Linked DNA regions of Homo sapiens. Changing the gene in region 2 together with the main gene of any one other region gives a genetic interaction. Each region holds a gene or a part of one and is shown on either strand. Other genes may lie near its edges.

Region 1 (7,328 bases), on a different chromosome or scaffold from region 2:
CACTTTGGGCTGTACAGGAGAGACACAGTAGTGACCAAAGGTAGACAGTTTCCCCACATCAGATTCACAGTCCAGAAATTTGAGCGGTTTCAACGAGTAAAAAACCACATGAACAGTAATATTTAAAATTTAAACAAGGCTGGGTGTGGTGGCTCAGTCAAGAGTTTGAGACCATCCTGGCCAAGATGGCGAAACCCTGTCTCTACTAAAAATACAAAAAAATTAGTCAGGTGTGGTGGCCCATGCCTATAATCCCAGGCACTCAGGAGGCTGAGGCAGTAAAATCGCTTGAACCCAGGAGGCGGAGGTTGCAGTGAGCTGAGATGGCACCATTGCACTCCATCCTGGGCGACAGAGTGAGACTCTGTCTCAAAAAAAAAAAGGAACAAAACAGTTGAGGAAACAGAGGCCAAGAGGGGTTACCCATCCAGGAAGGGGTAGTGCCAGGATTCCAACACAAACAACCAAGCCATGGCACTCATGTTGTCTTATCTGTCGATCAGCATTACTGGGCCCTGGTATGAATGGTCACTTTTAGACTAGGTCTTTGCAAGACAGATCAACTCTGTGCTGCCAAACAAAAAAAATAAATAAATATTACCCCAAATACACAGTCATAATATCAGTATTAGCTAACATGAATAGAGTACTTGCCATATGCCAGTGTTGTTCTAAGTGCCTAGGATATGTAACCTCATTGAATCCTCACAAATACCCTATGAGAGATTTCTACATCATTATTCTCATTTTACAGATAAGAAAACTGAGGCACAGATAAGTTCATAACTTGGCGGGGCACAGTAGCTCACGCCTGTAATCCTAGCACTTTGGGAGGCCGAGGCAGGCAGATCGCTTGAGCTCAGTAATTCAAGACCAGCCTGGCCAACACGGCGAGACCCTGTCTCTACCAGAAAACACAAAAAAATTAGTCAGGTATGGTGGCATGCGCCTGCAGTCCCAGCTACTCAGGAGGCTTGAGGCAGGAAGATCACCTGAGCCCAGGGAGGCTGAGACTGCAGTGAGCCGAGATCAACCCAGTGCACTACAGCCTGGATGACAGAGTAAGACCCCATCTCAAAAAAAAAAAAAAAGAAAAGAAAAAGCGAAGTTCATAACCTGCCAGGAAGAACAGGACTAAAGTTTAAGCTCAGGCTGCCTGGGTCCAACCATACCATCAGCAGCAGTCTGTGCTCTTAGCCACTTTGCTATAACGCCTCTCTGAATTTGCTATTGTTATATGTAGTTTAATAGCTCAAAGGGCACTTTCAGGAACATATAAGATAAAGGCTATGAAGTATAGGGTGCTGGGTGACAGATGAAGGTGGCTGTTTGCTTTAGAATGGGGTTCGAGAAGGCCTTTCAAGATAGCGACATTCAGGCTGAGACTTGAAGGATGGGAAGGAGCCAGACAGGCAGATTGCAGCAAAAAGCCCAGGCTGAGGACTCACCAATCACAAAGGCCAGGAGGCAGAAAAGAATATGGAGCCTCAGGAAAACCAAAAGCAGGCCAGTGTGACTGAACCTTGGTGACAGAGAGCACATGGGAGGTACAGCCAGAGCCCTGTAGCCAGGAGTGGGCGGTATAATCACAGTGCAGGAGAAAGTCATGGGGCAGGAACAAGCTCCACCAGCAGCTACCAGGTATCCTCCCTTTATCTGGACTCCGTGCCAAGAAGATCACAATTAAAATTTCATTTCCCTCCAATGCAATAGTATAATTTATTTATTTATTTATTTTGAGACAGAGTCTCACTCTGTCGCCCAGGCTGGAGTGCAGTGGCATGACCTCAGCTCACTGCAACCTCCGCCTCCCAGGTTCAAGCGATTTCTCCCGCCTCAGCCTCCTGAGTAGCTGGGATTACAGGCGCGCGCTAGCATGCCGGGCTAATTTTTCTACTTTTTGTAGAGACGGGTTTCACCATGTTGGCCAGGCTGGTCTTGAACTGATCTCAGGTGAACAGCCCACCTTGGCCTCCCAAAGTGCTGGGATTACAGACGTGAGCTACCGCGCCCTACCAGTAGTATGGTTCTTATCATCTCCATTTTATAAAAACAGATTTTGTGCCTACACAGCTGGAAAACAATTTTTTTAATTGCCGCTGTGCTAATGGAATTCCTTCTACCTACTGTGAAATCATTTCTTTCCATTTTTCTGTCTCAGGATTTAGGGAACTGTTCTGTACGCCCTCCTCCCCAGGCAGCACTGCAGAGATTTTATAAATAACTTCTCACGTCTTTCTCATAGTTTTGAGTGACAATATGGATTAAGAATCCCACCTTGGTGAGGAAAAAGGATAGAGATCGCAGAAGGTGAGAGAAGGCGGGGTAGAAGCGAGGAAGAGTTGGGGCAGGTAACACTCTGGACCGAACCCTCGAAGGGACCTTAATGACTCAGCGGGGGCCAGGGCAGTGAGGCTGCAGTGAGCTATGATCGTGACGTCTAAAGGCGATAGAACGGGGGTTAAAATATAGCAGGACTAGGCTGTGATTTACAGAAGCAAAATGCATTTCCACGGGTGGGAACCAGCGAGGAACCCCCGAATTGCTCCAACGCTGAGGGTGGAGCCGGGAAAGCAGCGAGGAGAAAGTGGGAGGGGCCGTGGCTAAAGGGGCGGGGGTTAGGGGACGAGGCATGGCAGGGAACAACCTGAGGGGACTGGCCGGGGGCTGATGTCGGGGCCACAGTTCTCAGGACGGGACTAGGGGAAACCTAGGAAGCCTGGAACTGGGGTAGACATGGCGAGCAGCTTCTCACCCGGTTCTGCACCGTCTCCTCGGAGGCCGTCGAGAGTCGCGTCCGCCGCCGTAGGCAGATTGGTGGGGCGGGGGGCGGGGAGGACTGGCCCCTCCGCGCCGGAACTCCCGCCATGACAGAGGGCAGCTTCTCCCCTGCATCGTTCCGCGCATAGCCTCCGGACCCTACGGCCGCCATCGTCACGCCGGAGGCGGGCGACCGTTACATCCCCTAACCGCCGCTGCCGCCACCGCCACGACCCACTGGAACAGCGAACAGCCGCGGGAAAGCCGGCGCCACCGCCTATTGGACGCGACGGGCCCGGCCTAGCCAATCGCAGGGATGCCGGGCGGCGCTTAGAACCAATGGGGGCGAAGAGGCGGAGCGAGTGCCTGGCGGGGCGGGGCCACAGCCAGTGTACTGGATGCCTGATTAAGCGTCATGGGGTCTTTCATCCAGACTGCGTTTTCATTATTCGCTGAAACATACAGGTTTTAATTTTTACGAGGCTAAGGCCACGGCCGCCTCACCTCGGTTTTTGCCGCCACCTAGAGGAACTATGTGCGCCCCAACGGTTGCCCGGATGTAGGCGTAGGGTGGAGCCGTAAGAGATTGACTAGCCAGTTGATTTGGTTGGCGCAGGCTCAGAAACGCCGTGACGCCGCCCTTCCCCCCAACACGTGATGAAAGTCGGGGTGACGAAGGGCCGGCTTTGCGCAGGTGCACAGTACTCGCTATGGCCCATTCGTCACGTGACGAGGGCGGGACTGTGGCACTGTGGAGGGGCGCCTAGTAGGCAGGCGCTCTCAGCTCTCTCCCCGGTACGTGACGAGACTCCACGGACGTCACGTGAGGCAGGCGGCGAGCGCGGGTGGGGCGGGGTTAGGCGGCGCTCCGCGAGAACCAAAGTGCAGCCGCTGACCCGGCAAAACTCAGCGGGGGCTGGATAGCCATGCCCAAGTACTGCAGGGCGCCGAACTGCTCCAACACTGCGGGCCGCCTGGGTGCAGACAACCGCCCTGTGAGCTTCTACAAGTGAGCGCAGCGCGGGGCGGGGCTTGAGGGAGGCGGGACCCTGAGAGGGGTGGGGCCCGAGCATTAGTGCTGCTGTGCGGGGCTTCTGGTCTTGCTTGAGGGTGTTAGGAAGTGGGGTTAAACCATGAGGAGATGGCCTTCCTGGCAGTGTCCATTGCACATACAAAGGTGCAGGCGTGGGAAACAGGAGTAGACGATTGACTACAGATAGCGAGCGAAGCGAGCCGAAGAGTGAAAGGGATGTAAGAAGTGAAGTCGGTGCAGGCTGTTAGAGAGCCTGCAGATGCCCACTTGCCCTCCCCACGCATTTGAGCCATCTGAAACTCAGAGCATCCGAAACTGAGCTTGCGATCGTGTCTCCCCAAAACCTTCCAGTCTGTCTTATCTTAGTAGCGTGCTTCATTCTTCTTGTTGCTTAGGTTTAAAAAATGTCATCCTTACCTCTTTCGTCATACTTGGGAAAGTCAGAATTAGCTTCGACTGTAAAAGATCTGTCTCCTTATTTATCTGGCTGACATAAGCCAGTTGGTGGAAGAATTACTAGGAAAAAACATTTCTTTGCTTTTTTTTTTTTTTTTTTTTGAGACAAGATCGCTTTGTCGCCCAGGCTGGAATGCAGTGGAACGATCACAGCTCACTGCAACCTCGACCTCCCGGGCTCAAGTGATCCTCCCACCTCACCCTACCAAGTAGCTGGGACCAGAGGCACGCGCCACCATGCCTGGATAATTTAAATTTTTTTTTTTTTTTTTTTTTTTTTTTTTTTTTGCCAGGCTTGGTGGCTCACGCCTGTAATCCCAGCACTTTGGGAGGCCGAGGCGGGCAGATCACCTGAGGTCAGGAGTTCGAGACCAGCCTGGCCAACATGGTGAAACCCCGTGTCTACTAAAAATACAAAAATTAGATGGGCGTGGTGGCTCATGCGTGTAATTCCAGCTACTCCGTGGGCTGAGGCAGGAGAATCGCATGAATCCAGAAGGCAGAGGTTGCAGTGAGCCAAGATGAGGCCACTGCAATCCAGCGTGGGCAACAAGAGTGAGACTCCGTCTCAAAAAAAAAAATTTTGTTTTTAAAGAGAGAGATGGGATCACCCTATGTTGTCCAGTCTAGTCTCAAACTCCTGGGCACAAGCAGTCCTCCTGCCTCGGCCTCCCAAAGTGCTTGGATTACAGGCGTGAGCCACTGCACCCAGCCAGGAAAAAATATTTCTCTTGGACATACTGCAGATGTAAAGTGGCAGAATTCCCATCCTTTGAGTGTCTACTGCTTTCTTAGTAGGAAACTTTGGTTGTCTAAAGTCAGAGATGATCACAAACTTTGCTGTTTGAAATCACATCAAGTAAGAATGAAACATCTCACTTTTGCTTGGAGGAGCTAAGTCACTTTGACACAGAAAAGCAGTCCCTATTTACAATCCAGGTTTGGAGCTTCAGATAAGGACACAATATTCTACATCTATGTAAACTTTATTGCATCTGAGAAGACAAACCCTGGGCCCACTTCACCATCCGGACCTGATATTGATCCCTTTACACACAGTTCTGATTTGCTTTGAGGCAATCTGAACACTGCTTAGTTTACATTTCACCTAAAAAATAACTCTGTTTGTTGAGACTCCCTCACAAAACAAAGGCCCATAGGGCCTATGGCAGTGGTCCCCAACCCTTATGGCACCAGGGACTGGTTTTGTGGAAGACAGTTTTTCCACGGATGGGATAGGGTTGGGGGAATGGTTTTGGGATGAAACGCTTCAGATCATCAGGCATTAGATTCTCATAAAAAGCGGGCAACTGGCCAGGCACAGTGGCTCATGCCTGTAATCCCAGCACTTTGGGAGGCCAAGGCGGGCAGATCACGAGGTCAGGAGATCGAGACCATCCTGGCCAACATGGCGAAACCTTGTCTCTACTAAAAATACAAAAATTAGCTAGGTGTGGTGGCACATGCCTGTAATCCCAGCTACTTGGGAGGCTGAGGCAGGAGGATCACTTGAACCCAGGAGGCAGAGGTTGCAGTGAGCCGAGATTGCGCCACTGCACTCCAGCCTGGCGACAGAGTGAGACTTCATCTAAAAAAAAAACCAAAAAACCCAAAAAACAAACAAACAAAAAAAAAATGGAGGGCAACCTAGATCTCTCACATGCACAGTTCAGAATAGGATTCACACTCTTGTGAGAATCTAATGCTGCTGCTGCTCTGACAGGAGGCGGAACTCAGGTGGTAATGCGAGCAGTGGGGAGTGGCTGTAAATACAGATGAAGCTTCTCTCACTCGCTCACCTGCCTGCCACTCACCTCCTGCTGTGTGGCCCTATTCCTAACAGGCCATAGACTGGTACCCGTCTGTAGCCTGGGAGTTGGGGACCCCTGGCCTATGGTATCTCTAGTGTGCAGACTCTCCCATTGCCATTGTAAATAAATCTGACAGTGCTGGACTACAGGTTTGTCCCTGGTGGTCTTAGCCTAAGTGGGCTAGGACACATTCCTCATCCAGTCCCTCAGCAAATCCAGTTGGCTCTCCCTTTACAAACTGTCCAGAATTTGATCACTTCTAACCCTCTCCTCTTCCTGCATCCTGCTCCTGGCAATTATCACCTCCAGACTGGACTATTTTAGCAGCCTCTTCATTGGTCTCCCTGCTCCCACCGTCACCCCCAGTCTGTTCCCTGCTTGCAGCCAGAGGGAGCCTGTGAACACCTGAGTCAGATCAGCGCCCTCCTCTGCCCAGATCCCTTCCGTGACTCCCACCTCACTATAAAAAATAAAGTGAGGCTGGAACAGGTAGAAAGCAGGCCTGCAAAGTCCTACAGAGCTGGTTCCCTGATACCAGTGTGACCTCATCTCTTTCCTCCTGCCCTTCACACCAGTGACACTGGCCTACTTCATGTTCCTGTAGTGTGGCAGGCATGTTGCTGCCCTGGGGACTTTGCCTGTGTGATTCCCTCTGATTTCAAAGTTCTTGCCTTTATGACTACCACCCTATGGAAAACTGTAACTGACACCCAAACACACACACGATTCTCTCTGTCTCCTGCTTTATTTTTCTCTTTAACACATCACTGTCTGCATATTGCGTTTTCGATGTATTCATTCATTATCTCCCCCACTAGAATATCAGTTCAATCAAGCCAGAGGTTTTGTCTTTCTTTGTCTTTCTTCTTTCCTCCTGTTTGTGTCTCCAACCTCTAGAATATTGCCTGGCACATAGTAGGTTCTTAGTAAAGATTCGTTGGGTGGATTTGGTGAATGCCTTTCAGATGGGCTCTCCAGGAAAGCCAGCAGTCCATGTGTCACGGATCCTTTGAGGGACCCTGGTGTAGGGCCAAAGGGACTTTAAGCCTGTGTATGACTCTGGCAACATTGATTAATTCAGCAACTTTTTGAGTATTTCTTGGAGAAGCAAGTAAGCCCCTGCTGGACACAAAGAATCCTGACAGATCTTGTTTCTGCCATGACAGAGCTCATGGATAGGTGAGGGATCAAACATTGAGGAACTGAGTACGTGACCTGGGAGTTACCCATGATCCTTCCTTTTCATTCACCGCTAGTCCATTAACCCA
Region 2 (6,828 bases):
CAGATTTCTCATTTGCAAAAAGGAGGATAGAAATAATTCATGTAACACACTTAGTGCTCTGACTGGATCAGAATAGCATTCAATAAAGTTTTACTACTACTTTAATGATAACTATTCCCATTACCTTCTTATATAATCTACTAGGTGCTAGAAATATAAAGATAAAAGGCATAACCTTACCATCTAGAAGCTTAAGGCTTAGTAAGGGTGTTGGAATAAAAGACATTAAAATACAGTGCAGGCCCGGCTCAGTGGCTCACACCTGCAATCCCAGCACTTTGGGAGGCCGAGGTGGATGGATTACTTGAGGTCAGGAGTTCGAGACCTGCCTTGCTAACATGGTGAAACCCTGTCTCTACTAAAAATACAAAAATTAGCCAGGCATGGTGGCGGGCGCCTATAGTCCCAGCTACTTTGGAGGCTGCGGCAGGAGAATCGCTTGAACCTGGGAGGTAGAGGTTGCAGTGAGCTGAGATCGCACCACTGCACTCCAGCCTGGGTGACAGAGCGAGACTCCATCTCTACATAAATAAATAAAAAATAAAATATAGGTCAGGCACAGTGGCTCATGCCTATAATCCCAGCACTTTTGGGAGGCCAAGGCGGACGGATCACGAGGTCAGGAGATCAAGACCATCCTGGCTAACATGGTAAACCCGTCTCTACTAAAAATACAAAAAATTAGTGGGGCGTGTAGCACATGCCTGTAATCCCAGCTACTCAGGAGGCTGAGGCAGGAGAATTGCTTGAACCCGGGAGGCGGAGGCTGCAGTGAGCCGAGATCTTGCCACTGCATTCCAGCCTGGGCAACAGAGCGAGACTCCACCTCAAAAATAAATAAATAAATTAATTAAATAAAATACAATGTAATGCACATGTAGTAGGGTTTCTTTCCATAGGATGCCTGACAGTGGTTACATTTTAGTAAGACTATATCGGTGTAGGCTATGATTAAAAAATATATCATCTTGGAATTGTTGCGCCACCCACATCCTTATTGGGTAGGGGGTTAAATAAGTAGCTTCAGTTGTCCTTCAAGAAAGGTATCAGGAAAGCTCCTATAGTTTTTTAATTGCTTTTTTTAAGGGAGTTAGTCACCAATGAGGACTAGAAGGATGATGGCTCTAAACCCTCAAGGTGGTGAAAACTGGAGCCAGCCTCGATTTAGCACGCCTGAGCACGGATCCCAGGAGGTAGATGTGTGTGGAAACAGAAATACCAGATCCCATGAGAATCAGACACCTAGAGCCTAGCCTGGCAGCACCTGAAGGCCCTTGGATCAGGGTGACACTGGGGCAGGCTAGAAAGGTCTCACTCTGGCCCAGATTCTGATGCTTTGCTGACACCACTGTGCCAGTTCGCCAATGCTCTATCTCCATTTATGTTACATCTTCTGCCAAATAGCTTTGCTGCCTTGCCCCTGAACCACTGCATGCTCAGCAGCTGGTGCTTCAGCATCCTGCAGCTGTAGCCCAGAAGTCCTCACTGCCTCATATGTTGAGATGACTGAATTTGGCCAGGAGTCCTTCCTGTGAGAAAGCCCTGGAGTGTGGGCAGCCCATCCTAGAAAATAAACAAAGCAGCTTTCAGCAATGAGGGACACACAGCCAGTTTTGCTACATTCACCCTTCTGGCTCTGTCTTCAGCCTAAGCTGCTCCTTTCAGGTCCCTCCCTTGGGACCTCAAGCCTCCCTTTCAGGCCCCTTTTAAGCACAGCAAATCCTGTATGCATTAAGGGGAGGTAGTTGAAGTTTGGGCTTCTGGGTTTTATGTTATTACTGGCTTCTGAAAGCTCAAACATTTGCACTCCAGGGATGATAGTTGCATCTGTTAAATTTAGTGTAAAGCTGCCTCCTTACATATTTTAAGTTAGGCCTAAAGGTTTCCCCATACATGGTGAACTGTAGCCTAATTGGGTATGTAAACAGACTGTAACCTATTCTTGTACCAATCACAGAGTTCTGGCCAATCACAAGTGGCCAACTGTTCAAACCGTGTTCAAATAGGGCAAACCTGAGCTACAACCAATCCAGCTGTTTCTGTCCCTCAATTATGTTTTCTGTAAGTCACTTTATTTTTTCCGACCACTCGGCAAGACTGGAGCCTCTCTGAACTTACTTTGATTTGGGGTCTTTTTGATTTGCAGATCATTCTTTGGGTTCTTTGCTTGATTAAACGCTGTTAAGTTTAATTTGTCTAAGGTTTTTCTTTTAACACACCCCAAACTGTAAGTGGAGGCATCCTACTTACACAGTAATAGAAGAATGCATAAAGCAATAACATGAAGGAACAAGTGACAAATTCTGTAACGCCATGTGTTGGGGAAAAGTTCTGAGAGTGGAAGCTTGAATAGGTTTTGGAAGTATGAGTAGGAGTTTACAAGGAGAGAATGGAAGAAGGGGAATTACGGACAGAATAACATGGACGGAGGCCGGCCGCGGTGGCTCACACCTGTAATCCCAGCACTTTGAGAGGACGAGGCCGGCAGATCACCTGAGGTCTGGAGTTCGAGACCAGCCTGACCAACATGGAGAAACCCCATCTCTACTAAAATTACAAAGTTAGCCGCGTATGGTGGAGCATGCCTGTAATCCCAGCTACTCGGGAAGCTGAGGCAGGAGAATCTCTTGTACCCGGGAGGAGGAGGTTGCAGTGGGCCGAGATCTCACCATTGCACTCCATCCTGAGCAACAAGCGCGAAACTCCGTCTCAAAAACAAAAACAAAGAAAACAACAAAACAAAAAAACAGACGGAAATTTTATTATCCTGTGACAAACACTGTATCTTTGGTGAACTCAAAGTAGGTTTGCCCACTTTCCCACAGATTGTTTTGGTGGATTAATTTTTTGTTTCAGTTAGTGATAAACTTCCTTAGCTCTTTACTGAGTACAGGTTTACTGTATGTAAATATGTATAATATTAGATTAGTGCCTGGCACATGGTTAGCACTATCGATTTTTATTAGGGACTAGGTCTCAAACTTATGGTAATTAAGTAGCTCACTTTTTCTTTTGGGAAGACGTAAAAATATTCTCAAGCCTAACTCAAGACCATCCTTTCCTGTCTTCTAGTCTTGCCCACTCAAAGCTCCATCCTGCAAAAGTCTTAAACAGTCCATTTCAAAAGCCCAGCATTTTTAAAGGGTCTAAGGAATAGCACAAAACAAGATGCACCCAAAACGTCAAGGCCATACTGGACAAGGGCAACGTTAGCCATTTTTGGTCTGGGGTAATTATAGGCAGTATCTTAAAACAAGGCTTGAAAAATGTCATGTTATTTCCAAATCCCATTTCAGAACTTTAAAAAAAAAATAGCATTTTGAGCTCCTAAGAACGTTTTTGGCGGTAGGTGGCCACATGGAGGGTGGCACAGAGGCTCGGCGGGGGAGAGCGGAACAGAGCTGGGCGTGGCAGTGCCTGCGAGTCAGCGCCACGTAACCAGAGGCGCTCGCACTAATTTGACCTCTAAGAGAGACTAAGCGCAGGGAACAGCGGGTGCGGACATTACGGCGGAAGGCTCTGGAGGAAGCAGAAGTGAAGGACCTCGCAGTCCTGGGACGGTGGGGCACAGAGAGAGAAAGGGAGCCCCGGGCGCGGCGCGGTGAGGATGCGAGCAGAGGAAGGACACGCGGCGCCGGGTACCTGCCGGGAGCGCCGGATCCAATGGGAGGAGGGCCCGCGCCGCACCTCAACCTGGCAGAGGACGTCACGACGCCAAGGCGGTCGCCGGGCCAATGGGAGGCCGTCGCGGGCAGGGACGGGGCCGGGAGGAGTCGGGGCTGGGCCGCGCCGAGGCAGCTGGCTGACTCCAGTTTAGCCGCCGCCGGAGAGGACGGGCGCCGAGCCGGGGCTGCGGACTTCGGCCTGCCCCTCACCTCACTCCCGCTGCTTGCACCTCCCGGATGGTGCTGACTGCTCCCTAAGCGGCGGCGGCGGCGAGTCGTGAGGACGCGCCGCGGAGGCTGTTCGGGGTCGAGGCTTCCCGTCGCCGGCACTTCCTCTTGCGGCGCCCGTGCGCGGCCGGCCCGGCAGGCGGGATGGCGGCCGCGGCTCCAGGGAACGGCCGCGCATCGGCGCCCCGGCTGCTTCTGCTCTTTCTGGTTCCGCTGCTGTGGGCCCCGGCTGCGGTCCGGGCCGGCCCAGATGAAGACCTTAGCCACCGGAACAAAGAACCGCCGGCGCCGGCCCAGCAGCTGCAGCCGCAGCCTGTGGCTGTGCAGGGCCCCGAGCCGGCCCGGGTCGAGGTGAGCGGGCCGGGATGGGGCGAGCGAGGCTGCAGGGCCGGCTGCGCCGAGTACCAGGCTCCAGGCCTTTGAAAGCGCCGCACTCCGCCGGCCTCGGCTGGGGGAGGGGAGCCCGGCCCCTGCTCCCGGGGTGGAGGGCGGTCGGCTGCGCTGTTTTCCGGTGAGGCCTGGTCTTGCCCGCTCCTTTAGGGAAAGGGAGAGGGAGAGTCCAAGAGGAGCCCGCTATAAACGTTGATCTCCGGAGGGCCAAGATGCTGCTCCGGGATGGGCGTTTTATTGATCAGATGTGTCTTAGAGTAGCTAGAAAGACTCATCCCTACCAAAAAGTTTTTAACAGAAGGCTGCTAGGAGGCTTTTTGTATTCCCTGAGGATCATCACATCGGCCATTTCATTGTTGAAATAGCTTATGCCAAACTGCTTACCCAAATTCAACTTGGCACTGCCTGTGCTTTTTGCCAAATATGGATTATGAACCATGACTCTCACTTTTTAAAAATGTGCTTTGGCTAGCAGGAAGTAGCCTTTAGGAACGCAGAGGAATTAGTCTCCGGCAGTACAGCGTGCTGCAGCGATGTGGGATGCCAAAACTACATTTATAAGTAAAACAGAATCCTGTATTTTGTCCTTCCCTGAATAGATACTAGAAATCAACTTTTTAATCTGTTAATAGAATTAGTCCTTAGTCACTTGGCAGCGTTTTAACATTTCTCCCTTCTCCCAGTCGTGGGCTTTGTCGTCATTTCCAGTATCTGCTCCCTGAATCCCGGCCAGTGTGGCACTCAAACCCCCACTCCCACCCAGGCCACATCCAGCCCATCTCCACGTAACTAATCTTCCCGAACATTGAATTCTGCCATCTTGTCAGAAGTCGTCGGTGAGTTGCCTCCACTAATTTCAGTCCAGCCTTTTTAGGAGAGTGATGTTCAGGTTTCTTCTGATCTGGCTCCAGCTCACCTCCAGGCTTTTTAGCCACCGCTTTCTTGCTCATATGCTAAAGGGATATGCTCATCTGCAAAAAAGAATGTGCTTCAAGAGCCCTTTGGGACAGGCTTTGTGCTCTCTTGCCAGTTCCTCCCTAACACAAGACCTTTTCAAAGAAAAAAAAAAAAAGACCTGGAGTTTGAAGCCACGGATCAACTCTTCCCACCTTGGAGAACCAGCAGATACCTACTCTCTGTGAAGACTTCCCTAAAATTTCTTGGTTAAGGGTGATTTATCTGACCCTTTCCTTTCCTTTCCTTTCCTCTCCTTTCTCCTTTTTCCTTTCCTCTCCTTTCTCCTTTTTCCTTTCCATTCCTTTCATTTCTCCTTTCCTTTCCTTTTTCCTTTCCTTTCTCCCTTCCTTTCCTTTTTCCTTTTTCTTTGTTGAGACAGGGTCTCGCTCTGTCGCCCAGGCTGGAGTGCAGTGGCCCCGTCTTGGCTCACTGCAACCTCTAATTGATCCTCCCACCTCAGCCTCCTGAGTGGCTGGGACTGCATGCGTGTGCTGACACGCCCGGCTAATTTTTGTTTATTTTTTTTTTTTTTGAGAGAGGAGGTCTCACTATGTTGCCGAGTCTAGTCTCAAACTCCTGGGCTCAAGCGCTTCTCCGGCCTTGGCCTCCCAAGTGCTGGTGAGCTCTCACACCGGTGCATTGTTTTCGTGTTTCATGTTTTCGTTACATGTTACTTTCTTAGGCTTTTCCAATTTTCTGTTGTTTTTCTGTGTAAGACCGTAGGATAGAACTTTCTGAGAGACTGATCTTGGTTTCACTAAGCAAGAACATTTGTAAGAATCAGTGCTGTCCCAGATGTAGTAATCGCTATTGAGAAATAATGAAGTTCCCCTTACTGGAAGTACTCAGGAAGAAGTTGAATAACTAACTGCCTATGAGGAGATTCTGATATGGGAGGGAATCTGGGAGATAAAGTTACTGGGAAGTGAAGATTCTGGGAGCCGATTTAATCCTCACAACAGCACGTTAAACAGGTAGAGGAGGTTTGTAAGGAATAGTGGTTTAATATCACAGAGCTAGAAGCTAGTTTCAGCAGAACCAGAATTAGAATCTGGACTTCTGTGCCTTACTAAGTTTTATTAGCATTCATTGTGTCTTACTCTTTTGACTTATTTAATTCACTAATGGATTTTAATGGTTTATTGGATTGTATGCTGGTGCAGTTCTTTGATCTTGAGCCTAGCTTTCTCTTTCTCCTTTTTTGGGAACTTTATTGTGTATGTTGTGGCATGTTTACACACACATCTTGCTGCCTTGGGTTCTTGCAAGTTGTGTGCGTGTTTTATCTGCCCCTACTAGCTTTTAGGTGTCTTGAGAGCATGACTCTGGCTTACTCATCTGTCTATTCCAGAAGACCTTGTCTGTTCTTGGCATTTATTAACTAATTTTCTAAGACTGGGTTGAAGTAGTTGCATGTCAAGTTTATATCAGCTGTTAAATACCTTTCTGGAAAAACTGGCTGTAAAATAAACTCAACCAGGAAAAAAAAAAAAAAACAACAACCCGATTTTTAATAGTGTCTATCCAACCTTTTTTTTTTAAGTTGCAAGGGATCCACCAGATGGAATTAAGAGAACTAAGCTTTTAT
Region 3 (7,026 bases), on a different chromosome or scaffold from region 2:
TGCTAATAAATACATTAAAAATTATATTAGGCTGCTGGGTGTGGTGGCTCATGCCTGTAATCCCAGCACTTTGGGAGGCAGAGGCAGGTGGATTGCTTGAGGTCAGGAGTTCAAGACCAGCCTGACCAACATGGCGAAACCCCGTCTCTACTAAAAATATAAAAATTAGCTGGGCGTGGTAGTGGGTGCCTGTAATCCCAGCTACTTGGGAGGCTGAGGCAGGAGAATCGCTTGAACCTGGGAAGCGGAGGTTGCAGTGAGCTGAGATTGTGCCACTGCACTCCAGCCTGGGCGACAGAGCAAAACCCTGTCTCAAAAATAAATAAATAAATAATAATATTAGGCCTACCCTAATATAACCTATTGTGAATATTTTCCTTTAAATCATCTTCCAAAATATACATTTTAGTCATAACAAAATATTCCAATGTGATGGATTGTAATCTAACAATTCCCTCATTATTGAAGGGCTACAGCTTTTCTAGTTTTTCACTACTATAAATGCTACTTTTATATATCAAACTTCTATATTTAATAGCCAGTGTTTATTGAGCACTTAATTAAGGCACTTTGATAGCCACTTTATATGAATCCTCCCTTTCAATTTGCATCACTCAGTGAGATGGGAATTATTGTCACCCTCCTTTTCCGGATGAGAAAACTGAAGGTTGAAGAGGCTAAGCAACTTCCTCAAGGCTACACAGCAAATTGGTGGTAAAGCCAGAATGCAAAGCAGGTCTGCATGACCACTGAGTGAAGCTTCTAATCATTCTACCATACTTCATCTTCCATTATTTCTTTATGATGAATTCCTGGAAGCAGAACTCTTAAAAATAACACCCTATTTTTAAAAGTGTGATAAGTGCTGCCATGTTGCCCTTCAGTAAGCTTATAACAATTTGAATAATGCTCATTTTCATACTCTTACTAATACTCGATGCCAGCACTTTAAAAAGTCATTTTCAATTTCCTAAGTTAAAAAATGCTGGCTCATTTCATATATATTTTTAAGCTGATTTAGACTACTGGTATTTTTGTGATTACCTCCTGTAACAGACAAAGCATAGTAGTAAATGTTCTAGGTGGGCCCAATGGCTTATAACAACAGAAAGGGGATTTTGCAAATTTAGGACTCCTCACTGACAACAAGAGCAAGAGATGTTGCAGTGGCAAGTGGTGAATGGAAGAATGGTAAGTCTTCCTCCAAGGGCGGGTCAAGGAAGGATGATGACATCTGAACCCAGGAGTGGACCCTGGCAGCTGAGCTCACCATTAATGAGTTATAACTCACCATTAATGAGTTATCTTTACCACCAGATGGTCTCAAGTAACCAAAAATTTCACTTTGGCCCCTTGTTCCTGATTTTATGGAAATGCCACTTGTAAAGGTCCACATCATGGCAGAAAAATTTCCAAAGATCTCTCAGTCAACCTGGACTCCGCCTTCCTTTTTATCCCCAATCCTCCCCATATCTCTTTCCTCTTCCCACACACTATCAAGTCATGGATCTGAGATGACCACCAAGCACTCCATATCCCTGACAACCCACCAAACAACTTGTAATCATGCCTCCCAACTCAATGTATCTTCCTTCCCCCGGCAGCTATTTCCAACGAGCGCATCCTAGATGAAGAACGATTTTTCTGTGCTCCCATTGTATTCTGATGCTTTGTAATTGTTGGTCTACTTTCTCAACTAGATTTTCAATTTGTTGAGAGCAAACACTTTGTTTTACTGCGTATACAGGACAGTCGGTGGGTATGATAGGGTTTTATACTTTTTCATCAATAAATTGCACGGAGTTGATCAAGCAAACTGGTAGCCAATTTTCTATCTCTGGAGAACAGAGAAAGGAACTAAAATCGAGTGAATCTCTCTCTATTAGATGCCCAGTAATTTACATCCATTAACTCAATTAACTCTCACAATAATCCACTGAGGCAGACAGTAGAGTCCCTATTTTATAAATGAAAACAATAAAACCTTGCTTTCCACATATAGGTAGTGGGGCCAAAATCTGAACCTAGGTTGATGTGATTCTGAGCCTTGGTTCTTTCTATTCCATTAGGCGGCCACCCCTCCTGAAACTCAAAGCCATGTAAACTGAATGGGGAAGGCTTCTCTTCCAGAATTATTGGCTTAAAATCCTCTGGAAGTAAAAAGTCTCCCATTTGCCCTGGCCAGGAAACAAAGAGAGAAATGGGAGCATGGGAAGAGGGATGTAGGAAGAAGAGGGTGGTAAGTTAAAATTACATAACACTTCCCCACTTATCTGAAAGCATCACCTGGGGCACTTCAATCTTCAACTTGACCTCTTTTAACTGTCTCAAGCCTGAGAAGCTTTTTAGATGAGCACCCTAGATTCTTATGGCACTGTGACGCCATCAGAAAAGAAAAAACTGAGACACCGTAGTATATAAGGAGCAAAAGGGACATGTGGCTCTCATTCTGATGAATAATAAGTGGTACAACTGTAGCTAAGTCTAAGCCATTAAAATTCTCTGGAAATCTCCATCTCCTCATTTCTAAACTGAAAGGATTAGGCTGTGAGAGTTTCCAAACTGGCTCTGCATTCAAATAACCCTGAGTCAGTGGAAAATACTGATCTCTAGATCCACCCTCATTCTGCTTTAGTAGGCTTGGAGTGGAACTTAGGAATCCCCAGGTAATTTATAGGCTCAGCCAATTTTAAAAACACCTGGGTGAGATTGTCTATCCCTGCCCTCCTCTCCCCCTTTTCAGAGGACGAGAGTGTGAAAAGACAGCCAGCTGACTTAGTATATTGTCACATAACCAAACACTACCAAGAAATAGCAATTCCAGTTCTATAAGGCTTAATAATCCCTTCCTGTTTCAGGATAAAGTGAGTTATGCTCAATCTTCCTCAGTTGGTTAAACCTGCCTTGCTTTACCAATGCACTAGCCTTAAGACTGCCAAAAACAGCACTAGTGGGGAATGCAAGCTTTTTATTTAATTACAGGGTTCCTCCAGAGGTAGCAGCTGTTGCGATTCTCTCAAGTTGCCAGACCATCAGTTTCTCTACTCCTTCAAAGCTCTTCTGAGAATGAACTACTACCAGAAGATTTTAAGGGCAGACAGGCAGTCTGCCCAGGAGACAGTAATATTCCTACCTTGACATCTAGCTTGGCCAAGTGCTGTAAAACCCAGATGCGATGGGACCAAGCATTATAGTTGCTTGGGTATCTCCCTGCTGCTTCACCACAGACCTCCATCTCTTCTTGTATGAGTCGCTGTGCCCTTTCTGTGGGAATTGTTCCCAAGTTTCCTTTGGTCACAAAGGAAGGCAAGGAGGTTTCCTGAATTAGCTGTTGTAGCACCCATCGCCTGTTAAGGCAGCATGTGGGAAAGAGAACACAGAAAGAACATAAACCAGAGAGAAAAATAACCAGTTTTCATTGTTCCTAATTTAATTTCCATTCAGAGACAATGCAAAATAATACCTGTTTATAAGTCTAGTATTTTGGAGATGGGGAGGGGTTGTTTTGTTGTTTATGATGATACTAATTTAGCAGTATGGATGAAGGGTGGAAAATGGATAAACAGGAAAAAAAAAAAACTTTAAAATCTGTAATACAGAGAATGTCATTACTTCTAAAATGACAATCCCAAAACTCCACTTGGCCAGGAAATGTAAAGGCAATTGGTGTGTGTGTGTGTGGTCGTGGTGAGAGGTCATAAATTAATGGCTGATAAATATTATAAGGAGTCATGATTCACATCTTTAAGTATATATGCATGCCTCACCCTATGTGCATTTGTTTGCAAACAAGAAGCTGCATTCTGATAGCTTTCATTCAGCAAAATTCTGTATTATAGCATAAAATCTGGAAGGTAACAAATATAATTCATTAAACCATTAAGAAGGTGTCAAAATATCCTTATCCACAAATTCTCCCTTTGTCTGTTTAAGATTTGCATTAACATGTATTTACATAAAAAACACTAAATAGTGTTTCGAGCTACTTAATGTGTTTACTTTGTACCAGTAATTTACTTATATAAAAGCATTTTTTAGACTAAAGATTTCAAACCCAAAGGTACAGGAAATTAAGTAAGAAAACTCACTTTGTCATTTTAAAATAATGGAATTTCTTATTTAACAACAAAATATTGCTTGATAAAAAAAATTAGACAAGCCAAACTGATGGATGCATATTTAACAGTTCCTTTCCCCTGCCACCATCCCTTTCCAAACCCCCATACACACAGTCATATACCCTTCTGTGGTATACTATCTCAATTTCTGGTGATGAAGAAAATATAACTGACTATGTGGTTTGGAAGAAGCTGACCTGCAATGTTAACTAAAGGCACGATTACCACTAAGACACCTGGAACGGACATAAGATCCTAAAAATGCCCACGATTTAAGAAAAATTAGAGTGGCTTAATAAACTGAGAATTTCAGAGTGACTTCTTCATTGGTCCTGACTAGCAAGCCCACACCATCCCATTTTGGTCAAATAAGAGTAGTTACACAGGGTCCAAGAGGAAGATGGTTCCAGGTGGCCAGGATTTTGAGAGTCCTAAAGTGCATTCTGGCTATCTGTCCCATGCTTTTAACCTAAAAATGTTCTTTGTATGTATGGATTTTAGCAACTTTAGCTCAGCCTACACAGCATTCGCTTCAGCTGCCCTCAGCTTTCTCTGTAAGTTAATTTTAATAACCACAACCATCACCACCAACATCTTTACCAGGAAAACAACCAAATGCTTTTAAAATCCATATTGCTCATTACAGTTGAGTATCTATAAATGCAATGCCCACAACTGCTTCAAAGAGTTAATAATAGCTAACATTTATTGAGTATTTAATATGTGCCAGGCACTGTGGGAGTGTTACATGCATTAACTCACGTAAACTTGACTGTTAACTATATGAGACAGGTGTAATTATTATTCTCATTTTACAAATGAGAAAACTGAGGCTTGGTGAGTTAAGTAATTTCCCATGAACACTTAGGTAGCAAGTTATATAGCTCCTAGATTTAAATGTAGGTAACCTGACTTCAGAATTCATGCTCTGGAACCAATAAGTAACCTTGCCTCTCACATGTCATGTTTCTTTCTCCAGCCAGTCTGAATCCTAAGTAAGAGTACTATGTTGTAAATTAACCACACCTGTGAATCCATGTTTCTGGACTCTTTGGAAACTTGGTTAAGGCGAGTTTTCCCAGATGTAAATCCTTAATTGGATTTAAAGTGCCAGAGAGGATCAGCTCTTTCCTGTAAAAAAAAAAAAAAAAAAAAAAAAAAATTAAACATTACTTTATCCTTATATCCAAAGGTTCTACATGGCTTTTAATATAATCTCATTGTGAAGCGAATGTCTAAGAATTTTAAAACAAAAAAAGAAAGAAAAAAAGCCCAAGCCACTCTGGGATATAAAACACTCATAAATGTGACATGCAGTAATCAAGAATGTATTCTCATAATCCCAATATAACAAACTAATAAGCAGAAAGAGAAGCTCTTAAATCAACAGATTTTAACGATTTTTAAATCTTAACTATTTGCGTGAGGGTAAATGGGGTTTTCTGGCCTATCTCATTTCCAAAAGTTGTGAGACCTGATATCGTACCTATAGGGCCAATCCAATACCAGCCAAAATTGGTCTAGTTTCCTAAATAGGACTTGACATGGTCTATTTCATTACAAAACCACACATACAACAAACACAATATGGTTGAGATGTAAGGGAAAAAAAAATCATTCATGGAATCACTATTCTAACCAAATTACTATTTTTTATTTTTGAATTTTCCCTTCTACTTTTCCCTATCACACATACATTTTAACATATAATTTTACATCCTGCTCTCATTATATCTTAAGAATTTCCCCATGATTCTATATAATCTTTGTAATGAACATTTTAAATGATCAAATTAGTTTTCATTTAGAAGCTATGCTTTTCCCTTCTTGTTAGACATTTAGGTTGCGTCAAACTTTTTGTTATTTTAAAACAAATCTGGGCAGGGGAAGCTTTGTGCTTATAACTTCTTTCTTTTGTATTCTTACTTTGGATAAGTTTCCAAAAGAGCTATTAACAAGGTAAAATACTTACATGACCCTTGATATACGAGGCCATTCCTTTTTAAAATATTAATATAAGCAGCAGAAGTAATAGCAATGTAATGTTTTGGTTGTTTTTAAAACTGTTCAAGCCCAACCAAAGCTTCAATGCAATCAGTTGTCCCTTGGTATCTTGTGGGGGCTTGGTTCAGGACCTCCCAAGGATACCAAAATCTGCGAATGCTCAAGTCCTTGATATAAAATGTGTTGCCATATAACCTACACACATCCTCCCATATACTTCATATCATCTCTAGATTACTTATAATACCTAATACAATGTAAATGCTATATAAATAGTTGTTACATTATTCAGGGACTAATGATAGGAAAACAAAGTCTGAACATGTTCGCTACAGAAAGCAATTTTTTCCCCAAATATTTTCTATCTGCGGTTGGTTGAATCCATGGATGCAGAACCTACAGATACAGAGGGCCAACTATATAAAGAATGTCATGCAAGAGCTTTCTATACCTGTTTCTCAGGTAAATACAATTTACATTTAATTTCTCAGGTAAGTTTTTGATAAGTGCTGATATTACACTCTCACTGAATTCTCAATGTATCTATAATTTTATAATAAAATCAGATCATTTGTTATTATTTATCTTAAAATGTCCTTCCTGTGTAGGGCTGATTATTCATTTATTTTAGAGAAGTTTAAGCCAGAGAAAACCAGAATCCAGCTCTTATACCATATCTACTTAGACGGACTTAATTCCTAAATACCACAATACATTTTCTTTCCAACAGTGACATACTATTTATAAAGTTTTATTTGATAAAGAAAACAACTATTTTCCTTTCAATGTTCAGGAAACCAATTTGTCATTATATATATATAATATATATATAAAATATATATTTTTTTCTTGCAACAGCCAATTGCTTTTGCAGTCTTGGATTATTTTTCTTCTGAAATCAGTA
Region 4 (7,026 bases), on a different chromosome or scaffold from region 2:
ATTTACATGTTGGCTGGGCACAGTGGCTCACACCTGTAATCCCAGCACTTTTGGGAGGCCGAAGCAGACAGATCACTTGAGGTCAGGAGTTCGAGACAAGCCTAGCCAACATGGTAAAACCCTGTTTCCACTAAAAATACAAAAAAAATTAGCCGGGCATGGTGGTGCGTGCCTGTAATCCCAGTTATTTGGGAGGCTGAGGCAGGAGAATTGCTTGAACCTGGGAGGCAGGGGTTGCAGTGAGCCAAGATTGCACCACTGCACTACAGCCTGGGTGACAGAGCAAGACTCTGTCTAAAAAAGAAAAAATTATTTACATGTAAACTTTCTATGTATAAATAAATAAGTTGCTTATAAGAAGTGTATATTTAAAATCAGTTGCATTCCTGTCTGCCAGCAACAAAAAGTTAGAAAACGTAATTTTTAAAAAGGTGCCATTCACAATTTCATTAAAAAGTATTAACATATGGTACCTAGGAATAAATTTAGCAAAAGAAGTATAAAATTTTTATAGAGAAAATTACTAAAGCTTATTGATAGACCTTAAAGAAGATCTTAATACTTGGAGAGTAATGAAAACTCAGTAATATATTACTTCTCCCCAAGTTGATCTCTAAGAGTGAAAAAAATTTTGGTCAAAATCCCGGGAGGGTTTTTAAGGAATTCCTCAGGCTGATTCCTAAGTATGTGTAGAAGAGGAAAGAGCCAAGGATAGCAAAACCTCTTAAAGGAGAAGAATAAAGTGGAGACATTGACCTAGCAGATATCAAGATTTGTGAAGTTTTAGTAATTAAGACAAAGTGGTATTGGCCAGGGACAGACAAATTGTCTAACAGAACAGTAATGAGTCTCCAGAAATAGACCCACTCGTTAATGAAAATTGGACACGTGACATAGGAGCTTTCATATTAATGTAAAAAGGATGATCTTTCCAGTAAATGGTGCTAGGGCAATTGTTCAATCGGGGATAAATGATATGTACTTAACCAGTTTTTATAATAAGACTTCAGTTGAGTTTTTTATTTTCTTAATTAAATTTTTTATTTTTATTTTTTATTTTTTTGAGATGGAGTCTCGCTCTGTCGCCCAGGCTGGAGTGCAGTGGCGCAGTCTTGGCTCACTGCGAGCTCTGCCTCCCGGGTTCAGGCCATTCTCCCGCCTCGGCCTCCTGAGTAGCTGGGCCTACAGGTGCCCACCACCATGCCCGGCTAATTTTTTGTATTTTTTAGTAGAGACGGGTTTCACCATGTTAGCCAGGATGGTCTCGATTTCCTGACCTTGTGATCCGCCCACCTCGGCCTCCCAAAGTGCTGGGATTACAGGTGTGAGCCATCGTGCCTGGCCTATTTTCTCAATTAAATTTTTAAAAATGTTTATTTAATTTTTTTTAGAGCCAGAGTCTTGCTATGCTGCCCAGGCTGGGATACAGTGGTTATTCACAGGCACAGTAATAGTGCATACAGCCTCAAACTTCTGGGCTAAAGTGATCCTCCAGCTTCAGCCTCCTAGGTAGCTCGGACCATAGGCGCATGCCAATATACCTGGCCTGGTTGAATTTTATGTCATTTTAAAATACTATATATAGGTAACCTACTTTAATGATATACTTTTATTTATTTATTTATTTGAGACGGAGTTTCGCTCTTGTTGCCCAGGCTGGAGTGCAATGGTGCGATCTCGGCTTACCGCAACCTCTGTGTCCTGAGTTCAAGTGATTCTGCTGCATCAGCCTGCCGAGTAGCTGGGATTACAGGCATGTGCCACCACGCCTGACTAATTTTATATTTTTAGTAGAGATGGGGTTTCTCCATGTTGGTCAGGCTGATCTCGAACTCCTGACCTCAGGTGATCCACCTGCCTTGGCCTCCCAAAGTGCTGGGATTACAGGCGTGAGCCACTGCACTCGGCCAATGATATACTTTTAAAAAGTAAGCCCAAGAAAATGACAACTTAGGAAAAATATTTCCAACATGTATAAGAGACAAATTGTTTAGATCCTAATTTATGAAGAACTCTTAAAAATTAATAAGAAAAAAGATGGACCATTATCATTTTCCTTTCCTGATTAACTGATATTTTAAAACATTTTCTCACCCAGCAGCTACAGTGACATTGTGCGGATTTATAAAAGGTAAAAGGCTTGTTTGTCTTTTGTACTTTAAGCATGTCCCAGGTGGATGTGGATTCAGGAATTGAAAACATGGAGGTTGATGAAAATGATCGAAGAGAAAAGCGGAGCCTCAGTGATAAGGTTGGTAAGCGATGAAGCCCTTGGTACAGGTAATAGAAATAAACACATTTCATGTCTTGTATCTGTAGAGTCTGTTAGATTGGGGCCACCCGAAATCAGGAAGTCCTAGGCAGGTGATTATTTTTATTCTTTTGAGGAAAAATGAATAACCTAGATTACCCTTATTCATGAAAGTGTAACTCAGTCCTTTGATCTGATAATATCCATCTGTTTTTGGTTCAGGGCCATGATTTTATCAGTAAATTTAGGTTGTAATAGGAACTAATTTAGAGCAAATTAGAATTCTTTCTGTTGGTCTTTTGCTTTTTTTTTTTTTTTTTTTTTTTTTTTTGAGACAGAGTCTCGCTCTGTCGCCCAGGCTGGAGTGCAGTGGTGCGATCTCGGCTCACTGCAAGCTCCGCCTCCCAGGTTCACACCATTCTCCTGCCTCAGCTTCCCAAGTAGCTGGGACTACAGGCGCCCGCCACCACGCCCAGCTAATTTTTTGTATTTTTAGTAGAGATGGGTTTTCACCGTGTTAGCCAGGATGGTCTTGATCTATTGACCTTATGATCCACCTGCCTTGGCTTCCCAAAGTGTGGGATTACAGGCGTGAGCCACTGCGCCTGGCCTGGTCTTTTGCTTTTAAGCAAGTAGATCATCACATCTTTAGCAGTATTCTGAGGAAAATGACTGGGAATTGAAGCAAGAATATGTAGAATCTAGTCGCAAGTAGAAGGTTTTGGAAAACATGAAGCCTTTATATTTGAATATCACCTGAGCTTAGTGCTCTGCATTTAGGGTGTGTGTGTGTGTGTGTGTGTGTGTATTAATATAGATAATTACATCACTTTCTGTTTAGTAAATTATTAGGAATCCTTTAGCAACACATGTTAATGATTATTGGAAGTTGCACTGTAAACAAAAATAAAGACAAACAAAGGAAAAAATAAGAAGTTGCACTGTAGCCTCCTAGTGGTGCAGTGCTTTATTTTGTATAGTTCTTTAATGTTTACAAAATTCTTTTTTATATGCTGTTTTATCTGTGGTGGTATGTAATGAGAAATGTTACAATTTTGAAAAATTCCTGGAGGAAAATTGGTCATGCACCTGGAGTGTTAACCTGGTCCTATGGAATTCAGAAAAGTAAATAGATAGGATATGTACATCCTCTGTCACATATTTTTCCTTGGTGACTTTTGATAATGACTTTGCTCTTTTTTTTTTTTTTTTTTTTTTTTTTTTTTTTTTTTTGAGACAGGGCCTCACTCTGTTGCCCAGGCTGGAGTGCAATGGCGTGATCTTGGTTCACCACAACCTCCGCCTCCTGGGTTCAAGCGATTCTCCTGCCTCAGCCTCCCAAGTAGCTCCGAGTAGCCAGGCCCGCAACCGCGCCTGGCTAATTTTTGTATTTTTAGTAGAGACAGGGTTTCACCATGTTGGCCAGGCTGGTCTTGAGCTCCTGACCTCAGGTGATCCACTGGCCTCGGCCTTCCAGAATGCTGGGATTACAGGTGTGAGCCACCACGCCCGGCCATCTTTGCTCTTTTATGCTCCCCATAGATTGTATTGTAAGCTCATGAGACTTAGATGTTGTAACTTTGATGTTATAGGAATAGGCTTACTTTTCCCCTAATCAGTGGGTGAATGGTTTCATGCATTTTTAAAATATCATCACTAATAATGAATTAAATCAGAATAACGTATTCCTATTGAAACACCTAACTCATACCTCTTATTTGAAATTAACCTGCAAATCTTCTTCTTCACCAGGAGCCTTCCTCGGGCCCTGAAGTGTCTGAAGAGCAGGCCTTACAGCTGGTCTGTAAGATCTTCCGTGTCTCTTGGAAGGACCGGGACAGAGATGTCATCTTTCTTTCTTCTCTTTCTGCACAGTTTAAGCAGAACCCAAAAGAAGGTAGGAATCTAGCTCAGCAGTCTTACTGCAGAGTACTCGACAAGAAAATAAGATGTGAGATCTTTGCCCTCTGTTATCCACATTCACTCCATCTTGCTCTTGGGTTGTATTTTTGATGACAGGGATACTTCTTGATGAGGACACAATTGTTTAGCCACTTTCTTCCCTTTCCACTGATCTTATCGATAACTTATTTTTCATTTCCATGATTTCTATAATACTATGTAAATAGGTTAATGGTCTCCATTTTCTCAGGGTTGAAGTTTTTCTCTTTGTAGTAAGAAGGTGCTTAGAGCATTACCTCCTCTTTATTTATTTATTTATTTATTTATTTATTTATTTATTTATTTATTTATTTTGAGATGGAATCTCACCCTATCACCAGGCTGGAGTGCAGTGGCATGATCTCAGCTGACTGCAACTTCTGCCTCCCGAGTTCAAGTGATTCTTCTGCCTCGGCCACTGGAGTAGCTGGGACTACAGGCGTGCACCACCACGCCCAGCTAATTTTTGTAGTTTTTTTTGTTTGTTTTGTTTTTGTTTTTTTTTTTTTTTTTGAGACAGAGTCTTGCTCTGGCACCAGGCTGGAGTGCAGTGGCGCAGTCTTGGCTCACTGCAACTCCCACCTCCTGGGTTCAAGCAATTCTCCAGCCTCAGCCTCCCGAGTTGGGATTACAGGCATGCGCCACCACACCCAGCTAATTCTTGTATTTTTAGTAGAGACAGGGTTTCACCATGTTGGCCAGGACGGTCTCGATCTCCTGATCTCGTGATCCGCCCGCCTTGGCCTCCCAAAGTGCTGGGATTACAGGCATGAGCCACCGTGCCTGGCCTCATTTTTGTAGTTTTAGTAGAGACAGGATTTCACCATGTTGGCCAGGATGGTCTCGATCTCTTGACCTCGTGATCTGCCTGCCTCGGCCTCCCAAAGTGCTGGGATTACAGGCTTGAGCCACCGAGCCTGGCCTTACCTCCTCTTATGAAGTATAGATATAGTGGGTGGTCTCCAGGGATCCTGAGAGAAGTGTTCTGTATGAGCTATACCTGCTTTAAGTGCCTATGAAGCCATGTATAGACGGTGGAATTGGTCTATTTGGTTAAATTGCTTAGCAAGATAGAACATAATGACATTTTGCTGTGTTTCTGATATTCCACTTTAAGAGGCCAAGCTTGTAACAAAATAATAAAACTCTTAGCAAGATATCAGCATCATAGGGCACTATCCTTTTTCTTTACAGTAGTCATTTGGAACGCAGAAGAGGTATGGGAGGTGTGCTGGAGTGGTTTTTTTGGCCTATCACTGGAATGTAACTTCCCTCATGGTAGGGATTTTTGTCTGTTTTACTCATTGATGTATCCCTAGAAGGATATCTTGCACAAAATAGTCCCTCAATAGATAGATTTTAAATGGATGCGTGAATATCAAGGAGATCACCTTTCTCTTTTCTATGCTGCCTATCTTCTGAGGAGGGAAAAAAAAAGTCCTTTGTATTTCTGGAGGATAGATAAGACTATTTCTGATTTTACTTATTAACTCTGCTAATGGAGCAGACCATGTATTTGAAACTCTGCTACTTGTTATTCTTATTATAAATCTTAAGATTCTCTGTCTTACACATGTAAGTGGCAAATCTGTCTTACACATGTAAGTGGCAATTTTAAATAACCAAATCAGATAAAATTTCCATGAGTTAAAACTTTTGTTAAAACAAGTGTCTTACACATGTTAAGTGGCAACTCTGTCTTACACATGTAAGTGGCAATTTTAAATAACCAAATCAGATAAAATTTCCATGAGTTAAAACTTTTGTTTAGTGGTATTTAAAATGTATCTAAAGACCAACAGTAAATCAACTGGGAGCTGCAAAGAATAAGAAGGAAGCTAGAATGTAGCATTTGCTCCTGAAAGCCACATGGTGACTAGATGTTGGACCCTTCATAAAATCTTTTGAACCTTGGACTTAATAGTTTTATTACTATCTATAAAACATATCTAGACTAAGAAATATTAACCCAGTTGCATTTGTAGTATAATAAAGTAACCTCTATAGTTGGGAGTAGCTTCTTTTTACAATTAATATACATCAGCGGTAACTCTCAATGACTGTACCCCAACTTTCTTTTTAATAAACTTTTAATTTTGGAATAGTTTCAGTTAGTGCAGGGAGTTCCTATATATACTTTACCCAGTTTCCCCTGACGTTAATATCTTATATAACCATGGTACATTTGTCAAAACTAAGAAATTACTACTAACTAAACACAAGGCTTTATTTAGGTTTTCCACTAATATCCTTTTACCATTCCAGAATCTAATCCAGGATACTGCATCGAACCATTTGGGGTCAGCTGGCTTATTCAAGGGCTGTGTAACCTGTGTTCGAACTGTGTGTAACCTGTTCTTTGTTCTGCCTTTCCAACAGTATTCTCCGATTTTAAGGACTTGATTGGCCAGATTTTAATGGAAGTGCTAATGATGTCCACTCAGACCAGAGATGAAAACCCATTTGCCAGTCTGACAGCCACATCACAGCCAATTGCTGCAGCAGCACGGTCACCAGACAGAAATCTCTTGCTAAACACTGGCTCCAATCCAGGAACAAGCCCCATGTTCTGCAGCGTGGCTTCCTTTGGTGCCAGCTCTTTGTCTAGGTCAGTGTGGTTCTCTTTGCACATCTTACTGGTAGTAAAATAACTGTGAACTACGTAGGAGAAGGGAATGTTTGTTGACAGTGTTAATCAGTGTCATACAGGGTATGGCATATATCATATTTGGGGAGGTGGATTTAGTCATTGGAAGTGGAATTCTCTTTTCTAGATTATTATTTTTTGGCTCTCTATGGTTAAGATATTGCTAGATGAAATTTTAGAAGCAGTT

What was found.
Region 1: changes in TMEM165 (region 2) and WDR62 are lethal when combined (synthetic lethality), as found in Homo sapiens cells (one study listed by BioGRID).
Region 3: changes in TMEM165 (region 2) and PTAR1 are lethal when combined (synthetic lethality), as found in Homo sapiens cells (one study listed by BioGRID).
Region 4: changes in TMEM165 (region 2) and UBE4B are lethal when combined (synthetic lethality), as found in Homo sapiens cells (one study listed by BioGRID).

Annotation. Positions count from the first base shown.
Region 1 is NC_000019.10:36,050,576-36,057,903, reverse strand, and holds the start of WDR62 (WD repeat-containing protein 62), read right to left. Parts: upstream 3,008-7,328; 5' UTR 2,933-3,007; coding exon 2,756-2,932; intron 1-2,755. Other genes in the region: THAP8 (THAP domain-containing protein 8), read left to right, coding at 3,687-3,769. UniProt on the Homo sapiens protein: Required for cerebral cortical development. Plays a role in neuronal proliferation and migration.
Region 2 is NC_000004.12:55,392,153-55,398,980, forward strand, and holds the start of TMEM165 (putative divalent cation/proton antiporter TMEM165 precursor), read left to right. Parts: upstream 1-3,804; 5' UTR 3,805-4,037; coding exon 4,038-4,244; intron 4,245-4,966; exon of another isoform or gene 4,967-5,119; intron 5,120-6,828. UniProt on the Homo sapiens protein: Putative divalent cation:proton antiporter that exchanges calcium or manganese ions for protons across the Golgi membrane.
Region 3 is NC_000009.12:69,729,006-69,736,031, forward strand, and holds part of PTAR1 (protein prenyltransferase alpha subunit repeat-containing protein 1), read right to left. Parts: intron 5,250-7,026; coding exon 5,145-5,249; intron 3,348-5,144; coding exon 3,134-3,347; intron 1-3,133.
Region 4 is NC_000001.11:10,098,945-10,105,970, forward strand, and holds part of UBE4B (ubiquitin conjugation factor E4 B), read left to right. Parts: intron 1-2,163; coding exon 2,164-2,251; exon of another isoform or gene 2,252-2,262; coding exon of another isoform or gene 2,263-2,280; intron 2,281-4,003; coding exon 4,004-4,148; intron 4,149-6,571; coding exon 6,572-6,800; intron 6,801-7,026. UniProt on the Homo sapiens protein: Ubiquitin-protein ligase that probably functions as an E3 ligase in conjunction with specific E1 and E2 ligases. May also function as an E4 ligase mediating the assembly of polyubiquitin chains on substrates ubiquitinated by another E3 ubiquitin ligase.